Linked DNA regions of Homo sapiens: region 1 is linked to region 2. Evidence: fine-mapped QTL for protein levels in blood plasma. A gene starts in region 2. The other region holds a variant in brackets. All regions are shown on one strand. Distances are between the middles of the regions.

Region 1 (12,389 bases), 66 kb before region 2:
GTCGGTGGTCTGGGCCTGCTCCTGGCACCTGACAACAGCGGCCATGAGGAGGAGCAGGAGGGTGAGCGCGGGGCGCGAGAGCAGGGCCATGCGCGCAGCGCCGGGCTCTACGGGTCCCCGAGCCGCGGCGCGGGGCGCGTCCCCACAGAGTCCCCAGGACGCGCTAGGCAGCGGCGCGGGCCCCGGACTTGGCAGCAGCCAGCTCCATATCCACGCCTCCTTCCCGGCTGGCCCTCAGGATCTCGCTGTCTTTACGTGAACCGCCTCGGGCAGGCAGCGCCGTCGCGGGGACGCGCCCGCTCACCTGGACCAGCGCGCCCGCTCACCTGGGCCAGCAACCGTCCCCTGTGCGCCTGCGCCGGAGCACGGCGCGTCAGCGGCGCACGGGAGGGGCGGGACGCGCAGGGGTGGGGCGGGGCGGGGGCGGGGTTGGGGGGGGCGGGGAACCGGGGGAGGGGCGCGCGGGGCGGGAAACGGGGGCGGGGCCTCCATGCCCACGTGGTCTCCGCGGCACCCTCCCAAGACCCTTGGTCCTGGTTCACAAGAGAACCTTAAAAAGTACCCAGGCCTGAGCCCCTTTTCTAGGGAGCCTGATTACGTTGTCCCAGGTGGCAGTGGGCGTCGGTATTTTTTAAGAAAGCTCTCCGGGCTGTTAACCGTGAAGCAAGAGTTGCAGAGCTAACCCCGGTGGCCTAACCTGACCAGTCGGGGCTCAGCACAGTAGCCCCGAGAGACAAGCTTTTCTGGGTGTGGACAACATCGGAGAAAATAACCCCTGTGCCCCCTCGCAGAGAGCGCTGCGAGAGGTCCAGCTGAGTTTCCGGCTTGAAGACGTGGTTCCATTGGCAATGTGGGCAGAGTCCGGCTGTCAGCTCGCAGAGCAGGGCTTTTCCTCCTTGCGTCCTCTCCCGGTCCTCCAGATCTGCTGTGGCCGCGGTTGGGGGAGCGGGATCTGGAAGATGCCAACCCATGCCTTGGCGGTGCCTGACTCTAATCAGGACGAGCTAAATGCTAGTTTAGACTTTCCGGAAAAAGAAAATGGGCCAACATAAAAATCATAAAATTCTCCCCTGGTAAGGAAGAAACAGTAGTGTAAACTTAAATACAGTAAAAAGTAAAATAAATCTTAAGGAAGTCATTGTTTTTCTACTCAAGGGATTTTGTAACTTGATAGTTACAGTGACGTTTGTTTCTCTGTACCTACCACCCTGCCCCCAGCATTGTGCGGGATCCATAAATAACTATTGCAGTAGTACTTTGTATCAGTTGTAAATATCTGGTTATCTTAGTATCACAGCAGTTTCCAAGAATTTTACAGTAAGATCCAGAGCAATGTTGAAAGTATTGGGCAGACCAAGCGCGGTGGTTTACGCCTGTAATCCCAGCACCTTGGGAGGCCTGGAACTCCTGAGGTCAGAAGTTCGAGACCAGCCTGGCTGACATGGTGAAACCCCATCTCTACCAAAAATACAGAAAATTAGCTGGGCGTGGTGGCGGGCACCTGTAATCCCAGCTACTCGGGAGGCGGAGGCAGGAGAATCACTTGAACCCAGGAGGTGGATGGATGTTGCAGTGAGCTGAGATTGCACCACTGCACTCCAGCTTGGGGCACAGAGCGAGACTCTAAAAAAAAAAGAAAGTGAGTAAGTATTGGGCATAGGTGTGTCCTTTCTATAAGAATTACCAATAAGTTCTAGGTTTGGCCTTTTGTGTTTGTTACAAACTAAATGAGCTTATAATAAACGTTCAGTGCACAGTTCATAAAAATTACATCCCTCTTTATTGAGTGCTTACTATGTGCCAGGCACTTCATGAATATGATCGCTCACATTCAGAACACTACTTTACAAGGATGCAGACTTTGGGCAAGTTAGAAACATAGAAAGGCATTCCTCCCTACAAACAGGGTAGCCCAACAAACGGTGTAGCTCCTGGCTGGAGACTGCCTGCACTTCACTCAGCCCCTCAACCAGGAGTCTTGGGCAGTGATTAATTCCTACCACAATGGAGAAGGGGGAAGAATGTTCCCTGGAAGGTATTATTATCTTCCTCTTTTACAATAAAAGAGTCGAGGTGAGAAGTCATGTGACAGTATCTACTCCAAACCAAGGCCTCTGTCTTCACAAAATACCACAGATATTTTTATTTTTTAATTTTTAGACAACACATTTCAATACATTTTAAAAAGGGAACTTAGAATCATTGTCTTAGCTTTCTGGAACATTGGTTTCTCAGCTCCAAAGTATGAAAGTTGGACTAGATTACCTCTGAGATACCACCACCTGAATCCTTAAACCAGGCTTGGTTCTTACAACTCCCTAGTCCAGGGACAAGACTTTCAAAAGAAAGGATAGAATGTAATAAAATAACCTAGTTCCAGCCCTCAGTTATGACCCAAAGCCTCTCCTTTCCCCCACTTTCTCTATTTATTTACTTCTTTGTGATCTCATCTAATTTCTTACACCTTAACTACAGCCTATACTCTGAGGAATCAGACGTAGTTTTCTTTGTCTGATCTCTCCTTAGGGATTAAATTCTCAAATGCCAGTTCTTCTGGCTTGATGCAGCTGTTCTCTTTCTCTCAAGCAAATCTTTCCACTGTCTTCCCCATGAGAATCACCACCATTTTTGTAGAAAACAAGACTCTAAGTTTTATTTTCACATTCTTTTCACATTTAATCATTATATATTTGTTGTTCTGCTGCAGTAATTACAAGGTTTACGTTTTCCTCTTAATTGATGCTGTTAAATACCAGGGATCTGCACTGACCACAGACTATCTGTATAATTTGTAGGGCTCAGTGCAAAATAAAAATACAGAGCCCCTTGCTCAAAAATTAAGAATTTCAAGGTGATGGCCGGGTGCGGTGGCTCACGCCTGTAATCCCAGCACTTTGGGAGGCTGAGATGGGCAGATCACGAGGTCAGGAGATCGAGACCATCCTGGCTAACACGGTGAAACCCTGTCTCTACTAAAAATACAAAAAGTTAGCTGGGCATGGTGGCGGGCACCTGTAGTCCCAGCTACTCGGGAGGCTGAGGCAGGTGAATGGCGTGAACCCGGGAGGCAGAGCTTGCAATGAGCCAAGATCGTGCCACTGCACTCCAGCCGAGGCCACAGAGCAAGACTCTGTCTCAAAAAAAAAAAAAAAAGAATTTCAAGGTGATAACAGCAGAGCATTAAAATAAGTACAGAGCCCTTTTGACTGTGGGGCCTTGTGCCACTACACAGGATGCATGCTCTGATTTACCATATCATATAAATTTTTTTTTTTTGAGTCTGGCTCTGTTGCCCAGGCTGGAGTACAGTGGCACAATCTCAGCTCACTGCAACCTCCGCCTCCCAGGTTCAAGCTATTTTCCTGCCTCAGCCTCCCGAGTAGCTGGGATTACAGGTGCCCGCCACCACACCTGACTAATTTTTTGTATTTTTAGTAGCAATGGGGTTTCACCAAGTTGGCCAGGCTGGTCTCGAACTCCTGACCTCAAGTCATTCCCCTGCCTTGGCCTCCCAAAGTGCTGGGATTACAACATGAGCCACTGTGCCCAGCTCATCTCACGTAACTTCTAGATGACCCACTTCCATCTTTTCTTCCCAAATTTTGGCATAAACTGTTTGAAAAGAGCCTTCTTTACAGGACACTTTCATCTAACCAGCAAAACCTGTTATTTTCATGACAGACATCATTAGTTGCAAATCCACAGCTGTGTTCCAGGTCTTTCCTGCTAGAGAGTGGCTAGCTTGTCTATATATACTTTGTGGTGGGCAGAAGCTGAAGATAGGAAGTCAGTTATGATACAGTAATCTAGGTATGGCATAAGTATGGCTTGGTCCAGGAAAGGAGCAGTGGAGGTGTGAAAAGTGGTCATATTCTAGATGTAACTTGATGGTAGAGCAGAAGGGATTTGCTGATGGACTGAATATGAGAGAAAAAGAGGAATCAAGGATGGCATTGAAATTTTGGCCTAAGCCACAGGATAGAGAGAGTTCTAACTGTCAGAAATGGGGAGAATTGTGGAAGGAGAGGGTTTTGCGGGAAAATTTTAAAAATAAATTTCAGTCATACCATATCCAAGAAGCTTATTCTGAGTCTGCAGTTCAGCATAAAGGTTAGAAACGCATTGGGAAGTTGTCAGAATAGAAATGGCTTTTAAAGTCATGGGGCTTAGCTGGGCGCAGTGACTCATGCTTGTAGTCCCAGCACCTAGGGAGATCAAGGCTGGCAGATCGCCTGAGTCCAGGAGTTCAAGAGCAGCCTGGGTAACATAGCAAAACCTTATCTCTATAAAAAAAATACAAAAATTAGCCAGGCATGGTGGTACATGCCTGTAGTCCCAGCTACTTGGGAAGCTGAGGTAAGAGGATCCTTTGAGTCCGGAATGCAGAGGTTGCAGAGAGCCAAGATTGCGCTATTGCACTCCAGCCTGGCAACAGAGCAAGACCCTGTCTTAAATAAATGAATAAATAAATAACATGGGACTAAATGAGATCCTCTAAAAAGTGAGTGTACACAAAGAAGCAGAGCAAGGTCTAAGTCTTAGGAGGTCAAGGAAAAAAGAACAAAGGCGCTTAAGAAGGAGCAGCCAAGTGCAGCAGAAGTGGAAAAGTGCTATATTCTGGTGTGTCAAAGAAAGACAGAACCACCCATTCTGCTGATATGAGGAAGGTGAGGGCCGGATATTGACTACTAGATTTAGTAACTTGGGGGTTATTGGTGAACTTCACAAGAGTCTCATTGAAGTACTAGGGAGAAAACACAGTTGTAGTCAGAGGAAGAAAAGAATTAGAAATGGCGATTACAGGCAGGACGCAGTGGCTCATGCCTGTAATTCTAGCACTTTGGGAGGCCAAGGCGGGCAGATCACACGGTCAGGAGTTCGAGACCAGCCTGGCCAATATGGTGAAATCCTGTCTCTACTAAAAATACAAAAAAATTACCTGGGCGTGGTGGCAGGTGCCTGTAATCCCAGCTACTCGGGAGGCTGAGGCAGGAGAATTGCTTGAACCTAGGAGGTGGAGGTTGCAGTGAGCTGAGATCGTGCCACTGCACTCCAGCCTGGGCAACAGAGCAACAGTCTGTCTAAGAAAAAAGAAAAGAAAAGAAATGCAATTACAGTGAATATCAAAATAAATTATGAAAATATAAAATATACTATATTTGTGCTTATTCTTGTCTGAATGATATATTAATAAATACCTTGGAATGGGAGATTCTGGGTGGCCAAGACTGGCTTTCTTTTCTTTTCTTTTTTCAGAGACAGAGTCTCATTCTGTCACCCAGGTGGGGGTAGCATGATCATAGCTCACTGTACCCTCGAACTCTTGGGCTTAAGCAATCCTCCTACTTCAGCCTCCTGAGTAGCTAGGAATACAGGTGTACACAACTGTGACTGGCTAATTTTTGTTATTGTTATTATAGAGATGGGGTCTCCCTGTGTTGCCCAGGCTGGTCTTGAATTCTTGGGCTCAAGTGATCCTCCTGCTTTGGCCTCCCAAAGTGCTGGAATTACAGTCATGAGCCACCGCACCCAGCCCTACACTATATTTTCTATATAGAACTTCCCAGAACAATAATCAGGATAGGCAGTCAGATCTCAGATCTCTTCTAGAAACACCAAATGGTTTCTTCTATATATATGAGCATCATGGAAAAACATGGTAGTATTGATGAGATGAGAATGCAAAATTTGTGGGGTTTAACGTACCACATTAACTTAGAATGCTTGGAAACTACAATATTACACAATGCTTTGTGTTATTTTAAATAACAAAAATCAATAAAATATTAATGATAAACAGCAATTTCTATTTTTTAGTATTTTCCAATGTCTCACTAATGGCCTCAGCAGTGTTGTGATGAAAATAAAAGCCACGTGGTGAAAACAGTTCCAGCCATAATGGTTAATTTTTGTCCAGGATGAAAATAAAAGCCACATGGTGAAGCAATTCCATCCATAATGATTAATCTATGGCTAGTGCCAATGTCGCGGGAATCAGGCGGATGAGAGAGACTTCGGGGTAAAGCAGGAGGATCTTTATTGAGTGTACTCAGACTTACATCTGGAAAACTGGGCCTAGAACAAAGACAGCACTTGACTTTTATACACACTTCAAAAAGGGAGTGGGCTAGCTTGAAGCAGGCTTACAGTTACAGTGGTGTGAAAGCAAGGATACAGAGGCAGAGCAATTAATCAAATTGTGACAGGTTCATAACTCAGGATTACACATGACCGTTGCTGTGCAACCCAGATGTCAGTTATCTAGGTTTTCCTTTAGTGCCTAGCACAGCTTATTCCATGACCTTCACTATGGCGTCCAGGTGGCTGTATCTCAGGCCTGCTCAGACAGTTTATGACCTTCACTCCACTACTTAGATAAAACAGAATGCTTGAAGTTGCTAGTTACAGAGAACAGAAATCTATAAACTCATACTATAAGAGAAAGGAAAATTTGTTTTTCTTCTCCTTATGTTGAGGGAGTGCTGGGAGAGTCTCCAGAGCACATTCCTTTGTGTCCTAGCTTCTTAGATAGTGTTTATCAAGACTCTTTTTCCTGGGTCTGGGCCTTGCCTGCTACTGCCTTTGGGATGAGTCAGCCTAATACAGGAAAGCTTACTTCTTTCTCTTTTTAATTTTATTTTTCTTTATTTCTTTAATTTCCCACCGCACCAAGGCTAGAAGTTTCATCTCTAAAAGGGAACTTAAGTTAAAGAGAAATAAGTACTAGGTTCCAGCCTTTGGCTAGAAAGTCAATGGCATTAATAGCTTTCAAGCTGGGACAAAGTGAAGGGCAAGAGATGGCTGCACCAGATCTATGAGCATGGGCTTGTTCCATAATATGTTGAAGACAATGATCCTCTGCTTGGGTATGGTGGGGGGTCTACCATCAAGAAAATTTGATCAAAAAGATATTTTCAAGGTATCTTTGTATGCACAATGTAAGATTGCTTGGCACACAGGAGGGATGGAAAGAACCCACTTAGTTGAGACTGCAGGGTTTTAAGCCATCAGGACAGAGTCCGTATGTAGTTCTTCTAATTAGGGTTCCTGGCTACTTCCAAACCTCTGGTTGATTTTCAGCTTCGTATTTCCTATCACGTACTGTACACCTTCACTGGGCTTCCTTAGACATCACAACTTCAAAATATCCCTAACTGTCTAAATCTGATTCCATTCCTCTACTTCCTTCCTTTCTGTACTCAGTGGCAACACCAATCACCTCACCATCTAAGAGACTGGGAATTATCCTAGTCTCAAATCCCTCTCCCTAGTACTGTAATCTATTTGTCCCCAAATGCCATCTATTTCACTCAACATATCTAGAGTCAGTGCCATCCTTTTTATCCCTGCTTTAGTTTCTACCTTCATTATTTTTCATTTGATTACTCCAAGAGTGTCTTAACCATCTTCCATACCCTCTCTCACCCACTTCCAATACATCTTCCTTGCTGTCTCCAGCTTGAACTTCCTAGAATCCTTTAATGGTCCAAACTCTTTGGTATGAGGCTCTCCCTGGTATGGCCTTTCCCCCTCTCCAGCTCCTTAGCTGCACCCTGGGCTCCAGTCACTATGAACTGCTCTCCATCCTTGTGTGTGGTTAGCTCCTCACACTGCAGGGCCTTTGCATTTGTATCTGCCTGGAAAGTTCTTCCATAATTCAGACTAAGCTCACCTCTGCAGAAGCCCTCTTTAATATGTCAGGCTGGTTTCTAGATCTCCCTTTAGTTTTCCTTACCATTGTACCTGGCAAGGTGCAGCCGCATAATTTATTTTCCCATTTCTCTTGTAAGACAGAGAGCTCTGAAACCAGGGTTAAATATAAGACGATGGCAGAGCTCCACATCCAATGAGTTGTGTCCCTGGCCACCTTCAGGCGAGCTCACAGAAGCAGCAATGTCCAGTGCCCAGGCTCTGCAGTACAAGCTGTACGTGGAGACTGGGACCCATGCTAGTGGCCATGGTAGTCTCTGATGGAGCAGT[C/G]CTGCAGTGTGGTCTGTGAGCGTTATTTCCAGATGTGTAGACTCCAATTCTCTGGCTCTTTTGGAAATTCTGTGAACTGCATAATATCTTTGAATAAATCTATTTTTTCATTAAACCAGTTAGATTGGCTTCTGTAGTCTGGAATTAGGAGCGCTGAGACAGACCTCTAAACTAGGAGAAGCTTGGAGTCAGGTCATCTCACTCCTGCTGTTCCTGGTCTCTGTCACATAGAGTCGCTTCAGAGGGCTGACTTTCACCCTTCAAGGCTTGACCCTGGTCTACTTTTCTGTGAAGCTGCCAGATGCTAGGTCACTGTGCAGACTGGCTTGGCCCTTTTGGGGGCCCCCTTCCTAGATTGGCTGAGGATGCCCTATATGCTGGGTTTCCCACCTTGTAGCACTGGAGTACTTTTCTTTTTTTTTTTTTTTTTTTTAAGACGAGGTCTTGATCTGTCACCCAGGCTGGAGTGCAGTGCTGCAATCACAGCTCACTGCATCCTCAACCTCCTGGGCTCAAATGATCCTCCCACCTCAGCCTTCCAAGTAGCAGGGGCTGCAGATGTGCACCACCACTCCCAGCTTTTTTTGTGTGTGATAGAGATGGGGTCTTGCTATGTTGCCCAGGCTGGTCTCAAACTTCTGACCTCAAATGATCCACCAACTTTGGTCTCCCAAAGTGCTGAGATTACAGGTATGATCCACTGCGCCCAGCCACTTTTCTCTTTTTATCTCATACACAGACATATTCTAAGGTGCTGCGTTGCTCCCGGATTGCTGAGTCAGGACAAGGTGGTTTTCAAATATGTCCATAAATTCTTTGATACACCTCCTCCCTGCCGCCATCAAGAGATGGGTTATTTCCTTTCCTTTGAGCCTGGGCAGGTCTTTGTGATGCTAAGGGACTTCCAAAGCTGGGTTAGAGAAGGCCATGCAGGTTCTGCAGTTTCTCTTGGGAGGCTCATCGGCTGCTATGTAGGAAGTCTGGTGCCCCCGGCCCTGCCATGTTAAGAGCCCATGGGGAGAGTGCAGAGAGACATATCTGAGAAGCCCCAGCTGTCTAAGTCCGCCCAGCCCAGGCACCAAACACATGAGTGAATAAGCCTTCGTGATAACTCTGGTCCAATCCTGTCTGACGGCAACAGCATGAGAGACTGGAAGGGGAACTTCCCAGCAATAAATAACCAAATACTTTCCTGAATTTAATGGATGAAAAATCTGGGCAGCATGGGAGGGAGGAGTGGTGAGTTATTGTTTAATAGATATGAAGTTTCAATTTGGGGAGATGAAAATTTTCTGCAGATGGATGGTGATAATGATTGTACAACAATGGGCATGTATTTAATGTCACTCAACTTTACACTTACAAATAGTTAAAATTGTTACTTTTATGTTATACATATTTTACCACAATTTTTAAAAGAAAATCTGGGCAGTAACTGATTTTGGAATATATGTAAAAATGGGTATTTATATTATTAAATCAGTAGGGATCTATCCAAGACTGGCCCTAAATAAAATAATAAAGGGAATATTTATGTGAAACATATATGTCTGTCTTCAGGATAAAGATAGCTGTGCTTAAAAAAAAAAAAAAGAGTAGCTAATGTTTATTCACTGAGCAGCCTCTATGAGGCAAGTGGTAGGGATGTAGCCAGAAGGAAGACAAATGAGGTCTCTCTTGTCATGTGTCTTATGTTGTAGTTGGAGGAGACAGTGTTGAGAAGAGGTAGACAACCCAATCAAAACAGAATACACTGGGGGAAGAAAAGTACTATGCTGAGATTAAAGTAGGTGGTGTGACAGAGGGAGACTGGGCACCTACAATAGCCTTGGGGTCGGGTGGGGGTGCTATTTTCTGTAGGTTAAGAAAGTGCAACTGTTGAGTTTGGGTTGACCACTTTTCTTTTGAAATGTTACTAGATATTCACATGGCAATGGTATATACTAGTGTTCAGTGGCATATACTAATCTGAGGTTCTAGGAAAGGTCAGAGCTGAAGATCCAGATTTGTGAGTCACCGGACTGTAGGCAGGATTTAAAACGTAGTCTAGATGAGATTACCAGGGAAAGGCAAAGTGAGAGAAGCAACCAGAAGGAAGAGGCTGAGAACAGCAGTGAGGGAGGAGTGTGATGCCCTGAGGGGCTAATGCTGCTGCGATGAGAACAGAAGTGACTGTGAGGTCTGACACCATGGAGGTAGGTGGTTGTATTGAATTATCTGTGGATAGGTTTAGAGAGAGGGTCAAGGAATGCTTGTGAAATGGGGGAGCAAAGGCTAATTTTTCAAGAAATGTTAATACTTAAAGAAGCAGGGGCCTGGTGTGGTGGCTCACGCATGTTATCCCAGCACTTTGGGAGGCCAAGGTGGGAGGATCCCTTGAGCCTAGGAGTTCAAGACCAGCCTGGGCATCAAAGCAAGATGCCTCTCTACAAAAATTTAAAATTAGCTAGGCATGGTAGTGTGCACCTGTAATCCCAGCTACTCGGGAGACTGGGGTGGCATGATTGCTTGAGCCCAGGAGTTCAAGGCTGCAGTGAGCTATGATGGCACTTCTGCAGTCCATCCAGGGCAACAGAGGGAGACTTTGCCTCAAAAAAAGAAAGAGAGAAAGAGAAGAAAGAAAAGAGAAAAAGAAAGAAAGAGAGAGAAAGAGAGAAAGAAAGAAGGAAAGAGAGAAAAGATGAGAAAGAAATAAAGAGGAAGCAGGGAAATGGGACAAGAGCTGTGAAGTCAGTTATTACCCTGTGACAGGTACTATGCCAAACATTTATGTAAGTATGTAGTTTCATTTTCACAGAATTCCAGTTTCCATTTTATAGGTGGAAAAGGAGACACAAAGAAGACAATAAATTGTCCAGGGCATAGTAGGTGATAGAGCTGGGATTTGAACCCAACCTTATGTAAGTCCAACATTATTCAATTAGTTGTAACTTCAGTCAATAAATCACTCCCGCATTGAGATAATTTAATAAAATTTTCTGATAAATAAAACTTGTATGCTTCACCAAAATATTTATTTGAGAATTATACAACAAAATTCCAATATGGCATAAACTCTGTGGAGACCTTTAAAAATATCCAGTGAGATTTGCTTCATTTTTCCCCCCTAGAGAATTATTAATTATACCGTTTTATTTCCATTAAATGGAACTCTTGAGAGAAAAAGAATAGAATGAAGAGAGAGATCACAATTTTATACATTGTACTGAGAAATAAAAGGCCTTCCTACATGGTAGCTAATCCAGTCAAAATAATTGGCCACTTTGGTGTAAACACCTGGGAACTCTGGTTTTCCACAGTTTTCCCCCCAACTCACAACACCCCAGACATAAGTCACATTGTTGGCATCCATACAGACTAAGGGGCCTCCAGAGTCCCCTTTACAGGCATCGATGGAACCATCATATGTACCTAAGAAAGAAATGTGAAAGAGAAAATCACACATTTCCTTCCATTTTTCAAGGCTGCCATGCCTCCTCCATGGCATTTAACAACTTTGGCTTTTTTACAGTTTCCTGACAGCAATAGCATGGGCTCTCCTTAGAGTCCCTGGCTGGGCTTGCAGAGTTGCAGAGATGCAGCTTGGAAAATTCTTTACGAGTCTTCTATTTATTCCCCCAATTCAGCATGTTCTTCCTGTGTTCTCTACTTTATACGACTGAGTACTGAGATGAGATTGCAACCTGAAAGTTGCATCAAATGCTGAGTAGGAAAATGATGGGACTGCCTAGTGCTTACTGAGTGCTAAATATTTATTAGTCATTCATTGTCTTCATTCTTACCACAACCCTATGAGGCAAATATCATTATTGCCCCTATTTTATACATAAGACAACTATGACACGGAGTTTAACTTGTCTAAGGTCACACAGCTAACAAACGACAGGGCCTGGACTTGAACCCAGGCAACCACACCTCAGAGCTTGTCCTCTTGACCATGATACTCCCTTTTGGGAGATTTTGTGCTATTCACCTATTTTGTCCACTGTAATCCTGAACTCCATTTCAAGATGGGAGGACACTTTCTTCTTACTCATGATTTTCTGAGATTTTTAAATCACTGTAACCAGTAAGTTATAGGATGTCAATAACTGCCTTTTCAGTAATACACCATTTAGAAATGGTTTCAATAAAGCACCTAAATGCACTACACTGGCTGGTACTTTGCCTGCCTCTGTATCACCTCCAAAAGTAGGAGCTGCTATTGTTGTATTGGGCAGTAGAATTAGCTTAACCATGTTATCAAAGGAGTCCGTGGCGTAAGAAATGCGCTGTGATTTCCATGGAGGGAAAAATTTACTTCCAAATGGAAGTAAATCTCATCTCATTTGAGATGAGATAACTTGAATTTGTATTTAAAAGTAATTTAGTTTTGATCCTGGGTGTACCACCTCTTGTCTGTAAGACTT
Region 2 (12,389 bases):
CCAGAATCTCTGGCTGACTGATTTGTGAAAGACTTTTTCTGCCAAAGTCAGTCTGTGAAGACTGAAAGAGGTGGCTGCTTCTTCAAACATCCAGACATTAATACAGGTTACAAGGATTATGAAGAAAAAAGACACTATCCAAGGAGCACATAAAGCTCCAATAAGTGACTCTAAAGAATTGGAGACCTACAAATTGCTTGACAAAGAATTCAAAGTAACATCTTAAAGAAGCTCAAAGAGCTATAAAAGGACACAGATAAACAACTACACAAAATTAGGGGAAAATAATTCATGAGCAAAATGAGATATTCAACAAACATAAACCATAAAAAAGAACCAAAGAGAAATTTTGGAGGTGAAAATAATACAATAAAGGAACTGAAAAATTCAGTAGAGAGCTCATACACCATACTTAGTCAAACAGAAGAGAGAATCAGTGAACTCAAAGACAGGTTATTTGAAATTATATGGTCAGAGGAACAAAATGAAAAAGTATAAAGACTACAGGACTTGTGGGATACCCTCAAGCCAACGAATGAATGCATTATGTTATTTACAGAAGGAGAAGAGAAAGGGAAAAGGAAAGAAAGCTTATTTAAATTAACAATGCCTGAAAACATCTCAAATCTAGGGAAGGAAATGGACATCTGGATTCATGAGGACCAAAAGGATCACAAAGATATCTAACCTAAAAAGGTCTAGACTGAGACACATTATAATCAAATTCTCAAATGTCAAAGACAAAAAGACAATTTTGAAAGAACGAGAAAAGCAACTTGTCATATACAAAGAAAACCCTATAAAACTATCAGTGGATTTATTCTTCAAATTTCTTCTTCTTCAGAAACACTGCAGGCCAGGAAAGAGTGGGATAATATATTCAAAGTGTCATAACGAAGAAACAAAAAACCCCAAAACCACTGCCAACCAAGAATATTACACCCAGAAAAACTATCCTCTAAAAATGAAAGAGAGATAAAGACTTTCCCTAATAAATCAAAACAGGAAATACATCACCTGCCTTACAAGAAATGATAAAAGGTTTTATTCAAGTTGAAATGAAAAGATGATAAACAGCAACACTAAAGCTGCAGGATACAAAAACAACATACAAAAATCAGTGGTGTTTCTATACATCAATAATGAACTGTCCTAGAAAGAATTTTAAGAAAACCATCTCAGGCCAGGTGCAGCAGTTCATGCCTATTTCCCAGTGCTTTGAGAGGCCATGGTGGGAGGATCCTTTGAGGCCAGGAGTTTGAGACTAGTCTGGGCAACATAGCAAGGTCCCATCACTACAAAAAATAAAATTAGTTGGCATGGTAGTGCACACCTTTGGTCATGGTTACTTGAGAGGCTGGGGTAGGAGGGTAGCTTGAGCACAGGAGGCGAAGACTGCAGTGGGCTATAATTTGCCATTGCATTCCCACCTGGGCAACAGTGCAAAACCCTGTCTTTAACAAAACAAAACAATCTCATTTACAATAGCAGTTAAAAGAATAAAGCACTTAGAAATAAATTTAACCAACAAGGTGAAAAACTCATACCCTGAAGACTGTAAAACACTGATGAAAGAAATTAAAGTAGGCACAAAGAAATGGCAAGACAACTCACATTCCTTCACTGAAAGAATTAATATTGTTAAATGTTTATACTATTACAAATAATCTACAGATTTGATACAATCCCTACCAAAATTGCAAAGGCATTTTTTTACAGAAATAGAAAATATAATTCTAAAATTTACATGGAATTTCAAAAGACACAAAATAGCCAAAACAATTTTTTGAGCAAGAAGAACAAAGCCAGAGGCATCCCACTTCCTGATTTCAAAAAATATCACAAAGCTGCAGTAATCAAAACAATATGGTACTCTCATAAAAACAGACATATAGATTCATGGAACAAAGTAGAAAGTTCAGAGATAAAACCATGCATAGATAGTCAACTGCTCTTCAACAAGGGAGCCAAGAATATATAATGGGTGAAGAATAGTCTTTTTAATAAGTGGTAATGGGAAAACTGGAAATCCACATGCAAAAACTGAAATTGGACCCCTATATTACCCCATACACACAAATCAACTCAAAATGGATTAAAGACTTACACATACACCTGAAATCATAAAACTTTTAGAATAAAACATAAGTGATAAGCTTCTTGACATTAGTCTTGGCAATAATATCTTGACTATGACGACAAAAGCACAGGCAACAAAAGCAAAAACAGACAAGTGGGACTACCTCAAGCTAAAAACCTTCTGCACAGCAAAATGAAAAGACAACATATACAATGGAAGAAATATTTGCAAACTATACATCTGGTAAGAAGTTAATATCTATCTAAAATACATAGGGAATTCCTACAAATCAAAAGCCAAGAACCAAATAGTCTACTTTAAAAAGTGGACAAAGGAGCTGAATAGACATTTCTTCAAATAAGATATGTAAATGGTCAATAGGTACTTGAAAAGGTGTTTAATATCACTAACCATTAGGGAAATTTAAATCAAAATCACACACCAGTTAGGATGGTTATTGTCAAAATAACCAAAGGTAACAAATGTAGCTGAGGATATGCAGAAAGGGAAATTCTTCTACAGTTGTGGAAGAATTGATAAAGAAAATGTGGTATATACATGCAATGAAATATTATTTGGCCTTAAAAAAGAAGGAAATCCTGCCATTTGTGACAATATGGATGAACCTAGAGGACATTAATCTAAGTGAAACAAGGCAGGGACAGGAGGATAAATACCACATAATACAACTTATATTAGGAATCTAAGATAGTCAAACTCATGGAACCAGAGAGTGGGATGGTGGTTGCCAAGGACTGGGTGAGGGGGAAACAGGGAAGTGTTAGTCAAAGGTCAAGATGTATAATTCTTAGAGATCTATGCTACAGAATAGTGCCTATTGTTCATAATACTGTATTGTATACTTAAAAATTTGCTAAGAGCACAATTTCTTTGTTAAGAGTTGTTACATGCACACACAAAATAATAAATAAAGAGAGTGAGAGGAAACTTTTAGAAGTGGTGAATACGTTTATGGCATATGTTGTGATATTTTCACAGACATATACTAATCTCCAAACTCAAACTCATCAAGTTATGTACACTAAATATGTAGAGTTTATTATATGTCAATCATAACTCAATAAAGTGTTTTTTTTTTTTAAAAAGACCATTAAGTCTTTGTTTAGTGAGTCCAAAGTTTGTGGTTCTTCTGGAACAGATTATGTTCATTTCTTCTGTAAATGGTCCATACTTTCTCATATCTTTGCATGCATCATAATTTTTGGTTGAAAATTTTTGGTTGACACTTTGACTCTTACAGTAACTCTTGAAATCAGACTCTTCCTTCTGCTTGGGGTTTGTTTTGGTTGCTTGGGGTTTGCTTTGGTTGCTTGGTGTTTGTTTGATGACTTTTCTAAACTACTTTTGGCAAGTCTATTCTTTATCACATGTGGTCTTTGAAGTCTGTTCCTTTGACTTATATTCAGCTAGTATTTAGACAGAGATTTCCTTCAATGCAAGAGGAGGGAGAGAGAGAGAGAGAAGAAAAAGAAACCCAGAAAAACAAATCAAAATCTCAAAATCTCTCCCAGTCTTTGCAGATTGGTTCTGTCCTGGGCACTCACTCATCCAGGCCATTTGCAACTCTACCTTAGCCTTCACTTCATACTTGCACTGAACTTAGACAACCACCAGAGGTGCAGGCTCAGAGTCTTCTGAGGTCTTTCTGAGCATGTATCCTGCCCTGAGCATGTATGGGGCTTCCTAAACTCCCCAATACACACAGGCACTTTTGAATGCCCTAATTTTCCATAGGATCTTAGTTTTTCCCCATGCTTTGGTGCTCTGTTGTGTGCCTCCACTGTAATCCTTTGCCCCAGACAGCTGAGATTGCTCATTAATCTTGCAATGCCTGTGCTTTGTAATATTAATGCTTTTCTGCTCTGAGTTCTGAGCTAGGTGAAACCAAGACAAGTGCCTGGGGTCTGTCCTACAGGAAGGCCTTAGGATAGAAAAGACAAACACATTATTTTTGAATAAGGTCTTCTCTGTTCTTTCCAGTGCTAGGGAACCGGGTCCCTCCCTGAGTGAGAAACGTACATGGTCAGTGTTTGCTGCACCAGAGTTAGGAGAATTTCTTCCATATTAGATAGACAGATTTATATACTTTCCCATGGAAGATTAAGAAACTGAAATCTAAGATACATGAAGAAATTGTAAGTGGAAAGGCCACTTAGTGGTTGGTTTACAACAGTATTATAAGTGATAGGGTGATAGAAGTGTGGTAAGTGATTAGGATAATATTCTGCATAGTAAGAGAAACAGTTTGTATTTTTAGAAGAAAATTGCTTTAACATTTGCAAACTAAGGTAATGAGAATACAGTGAATTTCAAAATGTCTTTTTAATGACAATGTGTGAACTTGTTTTAATAAACCAAAATTTGTTGTTATTGTGTTAAGGCTATTTTATGTACTCAGATATCCTTCAAGACCACTGCCAAATTAGGGAGGGTATGGGGCAAGGACACAAAGGACAGACACGCAAAATGCTACTAAGCTTTCATACCATTTTTAGTTGCCTGTTCCTGCATTCAACATTTTCTTAGGTGCTATAAACCTTTGACTGTTTTCCAGAGTTCTAAATAAAGTTGGTTCTGACAGCTTCCCTTTGGTTTCTGTAGAAATGGATTTTTGGTTTTTGGTTTTGGTGGATCTGCCTACTCTGCCATTTCCGCTGCCATCACTTGCACTGCACACCCTCCTGTGTGCCACCCTTGTTTCCAGGATGTTGTCATTCTGCTTAACATTACCCCAGTTCTTTCTCTCTAAAATGCCACCCATATGTGCCTGAGTTTGTAATAAAATTTTAGGGTAAAATAAAATTTAGGGTATCAGTTGGTGATTACGTCACAGCACAATTATGGTAGGTAATCATGTTGACTGAAATATTTGGCTTCTCTGTTTTTTTTTTTTTTTTTTTTTTTTTTTTGAGACAGGATCTTGCTGTGTCACCCAGGCTGGAATACAGTGGCATGATCAGAGCTCCCCGCAGCCTCAAACTCCTGGGCTCAAGCAATCCTCTTGCCTCAGCCTCCCAAAGTACTGGGATTACATGCGTGAACCCCCACACCTAGTCAGCTTCCTTGTTGTTGAACATCCTCTGGTTATTCCCCCCATTAGAAGGCCCCAGCAGCCACTCCCACTGTGCTATGGGTTTCTTTTCCATCTTTTCTGAATCCCCTAGTTTCCTTGTCTGAGTAGGTTCAGTAAAACCGAAAACAGAAAATAGAATCACCAGTAATCTTATTAGCCAATGATAGCAACTATTAACTGTTTGATACATACACTGTAAGATCTTTTAGTCATATATATAAGTAGGTATAAGTATGCATTTATATATATGCATATAAACACACATACATATGTGTGTGTGTGTTTTTCTTCAATAAAAATAAAATTGTAGTAAGGACTTTTTATTTAGATAAATATGTCATTTCAATGGCTATGTAATAGTTCAATTTTGGATATACAATAATTTAACCAGTGTCTTATTAATAAGCATTTAGTTATTTCCATTTATTCTCTATTATAAACATTGCAATGATGGCAACTATTTTAGAAGTTACAAGAATCTTAAAGTGTGTTTTCTTAAGTAGTTTTCTTTAAATATTTTCTTCTACAAGCTGGCACTAAGACAAGATAGTTTTGGATTGCCACCAAAGTTGGCAATCATCAATAAGTATCCAAAATATTTTAAACATTTTTCACCTTAATAGATGACACTCTAACTTCAATAAAATATGTCATTTCAGTTTCGAGTTCCTTTGTAGCCCACAAAGCCTTCATTCTGATCAAATGGATTCATTTATTTGGAGGGGCCTAGTGCATTGCTGCCTTCCTATGGTAGCACTTGCTGCTTTTCCTGGCTAAAGAAGCTGGAAATCACTCCTCTTTCTCACCACTGATCACATGTAATACAGAATTAAACGTTCAGCTCAAATCCTACTTGATCTATAATCTCTTCATGACCTCTCAGCATGAAGTGATTTGTCCTCTCATTGAAGTCCTTTACCACATATTTGTATCACTTTTGACAATTAAATATATACTGTCTTGTAACTTGCACTTTTGTGTTTTCAGATGTTTCAAATTTGCTTATTATTTCCCCTTTCTATAACTATAGAGCGTACTAAGAGGCTGTTGAAGGAAGAGATCAGTCTCACTGTCTTCGTAGCACTGTACCTTACACACAGGAGGAGCCTGGTAAATATTTTTGATTTACTACAATTACAGTAAATCACAGCCTTGTATTAGTAAAATTCTTGTTCAGTTCAATGCCTCTGCATATATAAGCACATAAAAAGAACTATTTTTAAAAAATCACTTTTATCAAGATATTAACATAAAACATTTGTTGCTGACTATAGAGTGGCATTGTTGTAACTGAACTATGTAATATTTAAATCAAAATTATATATTTAAGATTATTTTCTATGTTTTTACAACCTTTAAATTATCAATTAAAATTGTTTGCATAAAGGTTGAATTACTTACCTTGCAAAACCTTAAGTGGAAGCACAGAAATAACAGGAAAACATGAAGAAGCTTCATGTTGGAGGTGTTCGGGGTCTTTGTCTCTGCTGAGAACTCTTTTCCACTCCAGGTATTCTTTTGAAATTTAATTTTTAACCTCTGAAAAAATGTTTCAAAAGAACAAACCTCCTAAAGAGCTTTGTACTTTTGAACTCTGAAAGAATTTGGCTGAAATCCAGAGAGATTTACCGTAACTGAAACCAAAAAATGGCCTTCCCATTAAAGAGCTGAGGGAGGTGACCAATAGGAACTTGTTTCCACCAGAAGAGACTGATTTCCTCCCACCCTGTTAATTGCAATGACTCAATTCTGTATTCCAGGGAAGACAGAAATTATATTGGAAGCAATTTTTTGGTTTTTTTTTTGTACAGTAAAAATATAATTTTTTAAACTTAAGGTTGAAGACTAGGAGACAGTAAGAATAAAAGTAGACCATATAGTGAAGGCTGCAAAATACATTTAAAACTCTAGAAACCAGCTTCTTTACCATGCATTTGTTGTGCTGTGATCAAATTGTATTTTTGGAGTACAAGAAATTTTAAAAACAAGTATTCTTGTGCCAGTACCAACTATCATGCAGGGTTTATCTATTTATGAAATAAATCTGTGATAGCAGAAATGCTGACACAGTTGGGTTCATCAGAAGCAGACTTGAGACAGTGAGTGTGGGGCACAAGTGTTTGTTAGGGATCGATATCCATACAAGGAAGGGAGGGGAAGCAGGGGTGAACAGAGGTAGAAGTTGAACTGGAGTGAGTGTGACCTGTCACAGTGCCCCTGATTTCAGTATAAATGGCTGGGCCATTATATTCTGCCTTGCTTGGTCCCCTACTATATATTGCCCAGGAAGGGCATACACTTAGGTGAGACAGTTTTCTGTAGCTAAGGCAGACACAGAAGGATCTGACAGTTATGTGCTATCAGGAGGAGGTATCTTCTGACTACACTCTTTACAGCCAGGTAGCAAGACCTTCCTTGACAAGGGTTCTGGGAAACTCATCTCTGTGTCTTTCAGAGTACATACTTGCACCTCTTAGATCTATGTTCCATATACACTCCAGGAGTGGCTCCTTAAACATTTCAGTGGGTCCCTATTCTTGAGAGAAAACTTAGAAGAGGAAGTTAATGGGAAAAACTACAGCTCCTACCCTTGCAGTTGATCTTGGGGCTGTAGTTGAAACTTACCCTTGGCCCCCTTCCTATCCATTTTAGATTCCCTTTACCTTGACCTCCCACCTCTGCTGGTCTCGGTGACTTACTGGATGACATGTCCCACACTCTCTTTCAGGAGTGGTCTGAGCCCCTGGTTACCTTTTGTTTCTCAGGCAAAAGTTGCCATTTTTATCCCTACTGTCACAAGAGGCAGGCTGGACATGGTGGCTCACTCCTGTAATCCCAGCACTTTGGGAGGTCAAGGCAGGAGGATTGCTTGAGGCCAGGAGTTTGAGATGAGCCTGGGCAACACAGGGAGAGGTTGAGGCTGCAGTTAGCCATGATTGCACCACTGCACTCTAGCCTAAGTGACAAAGAGAGACCCTCTCTTAAAAAAGAAACCAAAAAAAGCAAAAAATAAGAGGTACCCCAGTAGGTTATGTGGGTTCTACACATCTTCCTCCCTGCCCACATTATAGTAATAGCAGCCCTACTTCCTCGGAATGATCAGGGCCAATTACCCTTGTGGATTCTGACTCTTTCTTGCTAGTTCCTAGACACAAAGAGCCCAGCGTACCCCAGGCAACAGCTCTGGTTTATAATTCCATGGGACTCTTGCTTGCCCCTGGTGAAAGTATAGTCCTTTGGAGACCAAGATAACGAACCCTGCAGAGTCTACAACTGTGGAGACAAGATGCACAAAGCCCCCAGTTGGTCAATGGTGGTGATGGTAAGTGTGGTAATTCTTGCCTTTATTCCTTGGTTCCCAGACCCAGGTATTCTTCCTATTGGGAACATAATGCTATATGAAAGTCTTTGATTGAATGTATATACTGCTTCCTGGAGGATAGCACCCCATTCTCACAAAGTTTTGCATTTAACTGGCACCTCAGCTCTGTCCTCAGCAGCCCATTATAACATTCTGTAAGTCCACCAGCTTCTGAGTGGTGTGGTATGTGATATGACCAGGGGATTGCATGATCACAGGCCCACTCCTGGGCCTGCTTTGCTGTAAAGTGGGCACCCTTGTCTGGCAGGATGTGATCTTTGCTAGATAATTAAGCACTCTATAATTCTCTGGATTATGGTGCTAATGGAGGCCCTGCAGGCAAGAAAGGCACACTCATACCTCAAATATGTCTATTCCTGTAAGAATAGACCACTGACCCTCCAAAGAGTGAAAGAATCAGATGTAATTAATTTGCCACTAAGTGACTAGTTGGTCTCCTTGAGGAATTGTGCCATCTTGTGGGGACAGTATTAGTGTCAGCTGCTGTCAGGTTGGGCATTTGTTAATGATGGGAGCTAGATAAGCCTCGGGGTCTGTGCTATTGGCCTCATGGGTGGCCTCTATCTCTGTTACCACGGTCACTTCATTCTTGTGCCCATCGTGCCAGCAGTGGGGTGGCTGATGACTGAGACTCAGTCATTTTGGCTCAATCGTTTTGTTGAGCCAAACTGGTTGAGCCATTTTGTTGGTTATTTAGTGCCTTTTCTTTGGTGGATGCTTTCTAGTAGGCATTAACATGTGATACAAAGATTTTTTTTCCTTTTTCTTTTTTCTCTCTCTCTTTTTTTTTTTTTTTTCTGAGACAGTGTCTCGCTCTGTCACCCAGGTTAGAGTGCAGTGGCGTGATCTCGGCTCACTGCAAGCTCCGACTCCCGGGTTCATGCCATTCTCCTGCCTCAGCCTCCTGAGTAGCTGGGACTACAGGCGCCCGCCATGACGCCCGGCTAATGTTTTGTATTTTTAGTAGAGATGAGGTTTCACTGTGTTAGCCAGGATGGTCTTGATCTCCTGACCTTGTGATCTACCTGCCTCGGCCTCCCAAAGTGCTGGGATTACAGGCGTGAGCCACCGTGCCTGGCCATGATACAAAGATTTGTATACTTCATGCCCAGTCCTGTATGTACACATATCCATTCTAGATTCTCTTCACTCCGACCTCCCACCTCTGCTGATCTCAGTGACGTACCTGATGACATGACCCACGGTCTCTTTCAGGAGTGGTCTGAACCCTTGGTTACCATTCACTTCTCAGGCTAAAGTTGCTGTTTGCCTCCCAGAACTTTTTGCTCTTGATCTTTGAATATTTTTCATTTCAGGAACAAAAGATGATCAGGAAATCACTATTGCCTGTGATTCTATATAAGTCTAGCCTCAGGCCACCTCTCTTTCCACACGAAGTGGATGACCAGGTGTACCCCCTGCAGCTCTGCCCTTTGGGAGGACTTTCTCTCACCACTGTCTTTCAAAACCACTCCAAAGTGTGGCTGTAAAGCTGCCTCTGTCTATTTTTAACTTGCCTATATACCAAGCCAACCCATCTGTAAACAAAATGTGACCTTTTCTCTCCTCCTTCAGCTGGTCATACCAAATTCCCCAGGGAGCTATAGGTGTGAGCTAAGGAAGGGCCATGAGTGCAACTGTTTGGATGCTGGGGACAGGGGCAGTCTGGGCTACCTGCTACCTGTTTATGCACATTGCTCATACCTCTGGTCCTGTTTGTGTTTGGCTCTGGATGTCACACTTCTATCTTACAATACATTTTTCCTAGGCCTGCTTGTCCTTATACTTTGCGGGTCCATTTGGATCCAGATCATAATGGGCAGTTCTGGCCGTATGGTGATGTAGTGTCCTGTGATTCATTATTCTACATTTACCAGGAACCAGTAATATACAAATTGGTCTTTAAAAGACACACAATTCTCTGCTGCAGATGGCATGGCCTTGCTCCAGAACCCTGAGGTCCTATATTGTGGTTCTCCCACAGGATCTTCCTCAAACACCACACAGCATTTTTTCCCCCATCACTGAGACTTCTGATGCCATAGAGTCTGCTGGACCACTGCAGAAGCCATTTCTGCTTTGGCAGCTGGAGCAGTATTCCCTACTGCAGAATATTTGCTCCCAGAGTCCAAAAAGCCTCATCAGATTTTGTGCTTCCTTCTTTGTTAAAGAAAGTACAAGATACAATAATTTGTCTTTTACATTAAAGAGGATGTGCTAGCACGTTCCTGAACACTGGTTTCCTAAAAATTTTACCGATGTGCCAGGCTTTATTTCCTACCCTCTGGAGCACATCTGTCTTACCAAAGTATTTAGCATGCTACTTCCTCATCTCCTCTGATCAAGATAATGCTATCAATGGAAAAACAATGGTGTCTTATGGGAAATCCAGATGCTCCAGATCTCTGCATATTATATTATATCAGAAGGTGGCAGATAAGGCCTGGGAAAACTTTAAGTGTATATGTTGCCCATTCCATGTGAATGAGAACTGTTTCTGATCCTTTCTGATTAAAATGCCCCCTCTCTCTTGCTCCTACTCCAGCCATGTAATGCACGTGCTTTCCGTTTGCTTTCTGCCATGATTGTAAGTTTCCTGAGGCCTCCCCAGAACCGGAGCAGATGCCAGCATCATGCTTTCTGTACAGCCTGTGGAACCACGAACCAATTAAACCTCTTTTCTTTATAAATTATCCAGTCTCAGGTATTTCTTTATAGCAGTGCAAGAATGGACCAATACAGTAGTTAACAAAAAGAAAATGTAAAGTGCTCATGAGGACTGAAATTTTATTCAGTTTAAGTCTCTTTCCTCCTATGATCTCAATGAAAATAAATATAAAAATAAAAGTAATTCCATTGCACCATTGAAAAATGAAGAAGGATTCATTAATAGGACATAAACAGTGAGGAATTACTAGAATACATATAATAGACAGGAAAAGATTAACTGCAAAACTTAAAGGAGTTTAAGAAGTGTCAAATTCATATAGGTGACAACGAGATATCCAAAATAAGAAAGACCATAGAATAAATAGAAACAGTAGAATCTGAGATAAGTGATAGACTAAGTAATTAATAAATAAAGGGAAGAACATTTGAGCCAGTGCCCCACTCGGGGGTAACTTGAGCATTTACTCCAGGCTAAAGCCTACAGTAAGGCTCTCTATAGCACATGTTCTAACCCAGAACCCCTTGAGTGGACACTGAGGCAGAAGCAGAGAAGCATTCTAGATGACACCAGCCTCCATGAAGTTAAGGGAGTCTCTGAACTTAAGAGGCAAGCCATAGGCAAACCCTTGAGGCCTCATATCCCACCCTTCTCCTGCAGTCATTGAAGGCAGAGCTCTATAATCAGAATCTACAAAAGCAGAGGTACAGCACAATAAAAAGACCAACCTCACTCATGAATATAGATGCATAAACTCTAAACAAAATATTAGCAAACTGATACAAAATCTTGAGTAGTATTCAGTAATCTTACCATTAATAATAATACTTACTTGACAGCATATATATATATATATATATATATATATATATATATATATATATGGAGGCTAAGGCAAATAAATAATTATGCTAATGTCATAAGAATTTCAGGGTAAGACAAACACAAGTTTAAATTCAAAGAAATGGAAACCCTGTAGTCTTAACTTTGAATTGGAAATACCGCTATGACCCTCAGTTTTTTTTCTTTCTAAAAATAATTACCTTCTAGTTGTCCACTGTGTCCACTGATAGGGCCTAGAAGTCCTAACAATCCAGAAGCAATGAGCACTCCTTAGTGGCAGATTGTCTTCTCTACTTACCATTTTCCATTTAAAAAACTAAGG

Direction of the effects. Alleles are on the strand shown, and positions count from the first base shown. The strength of an association depends on the size of the effect and on how common the allele is.
For the plasma level of the protein whose gene starts at base 6,660 in region 2, allele C in region 1 goes with a lower level than allele G (moderate association).

The links. PIP is the chance, under the fine-mapping model, that this variant and not a neighbour inherited with it causes the effect. The UK Biobank Pharma Proteomics Project read protein levels with antibody pairs (Olink). The fine-mapping took linkage between variants from a reference panel, not from the people measured, so its PIPs are less certain.
Region 1: its variant is fine-mapped to the plasma level of the CFI protein (UK Biobank, PIP above 0.99).

The regions. Positions count from the first base shown.
Region 1 is chr4:109,729,720-109,742,108 of GRCh38, forward strand. CFI (complement factor I) reads right to left here. Exons shown (of 13, transcript NM_000204.5): 13 at 10,976-11,391. The coding sequence ends at 11,174. PLA2G12A (phospholipase A2 group XIIA) reads right to left here and starts at 351. Exons shown (of 4, transcript NM_030821.5): 1 at 1-351. The coding sequence starts at 90. RefSeq lists a silencer at 140-479 and an enhancer at 469-1,345. The variant C/G (reference allele first, on the strand shown) is at 7,981.
Region 2 is chr4:109,795,340-109,807,728 of GRCh38, forward strand. It overlaps CFI (complement factor I), which reads right to left and starts at 6,660. Exons shown (of 13, transcript NM_000204.5): 1 at 6,576-6,660. The coding sequence starts at 6,632. It overlaps LOC124900757 (a long non-coding RNA gene), which reads left to right and starts at 8,333. Exons shown (of 2, transcript XR_007058226.1): 1 at 8,333-8,496; 2 at 11,102-11,249.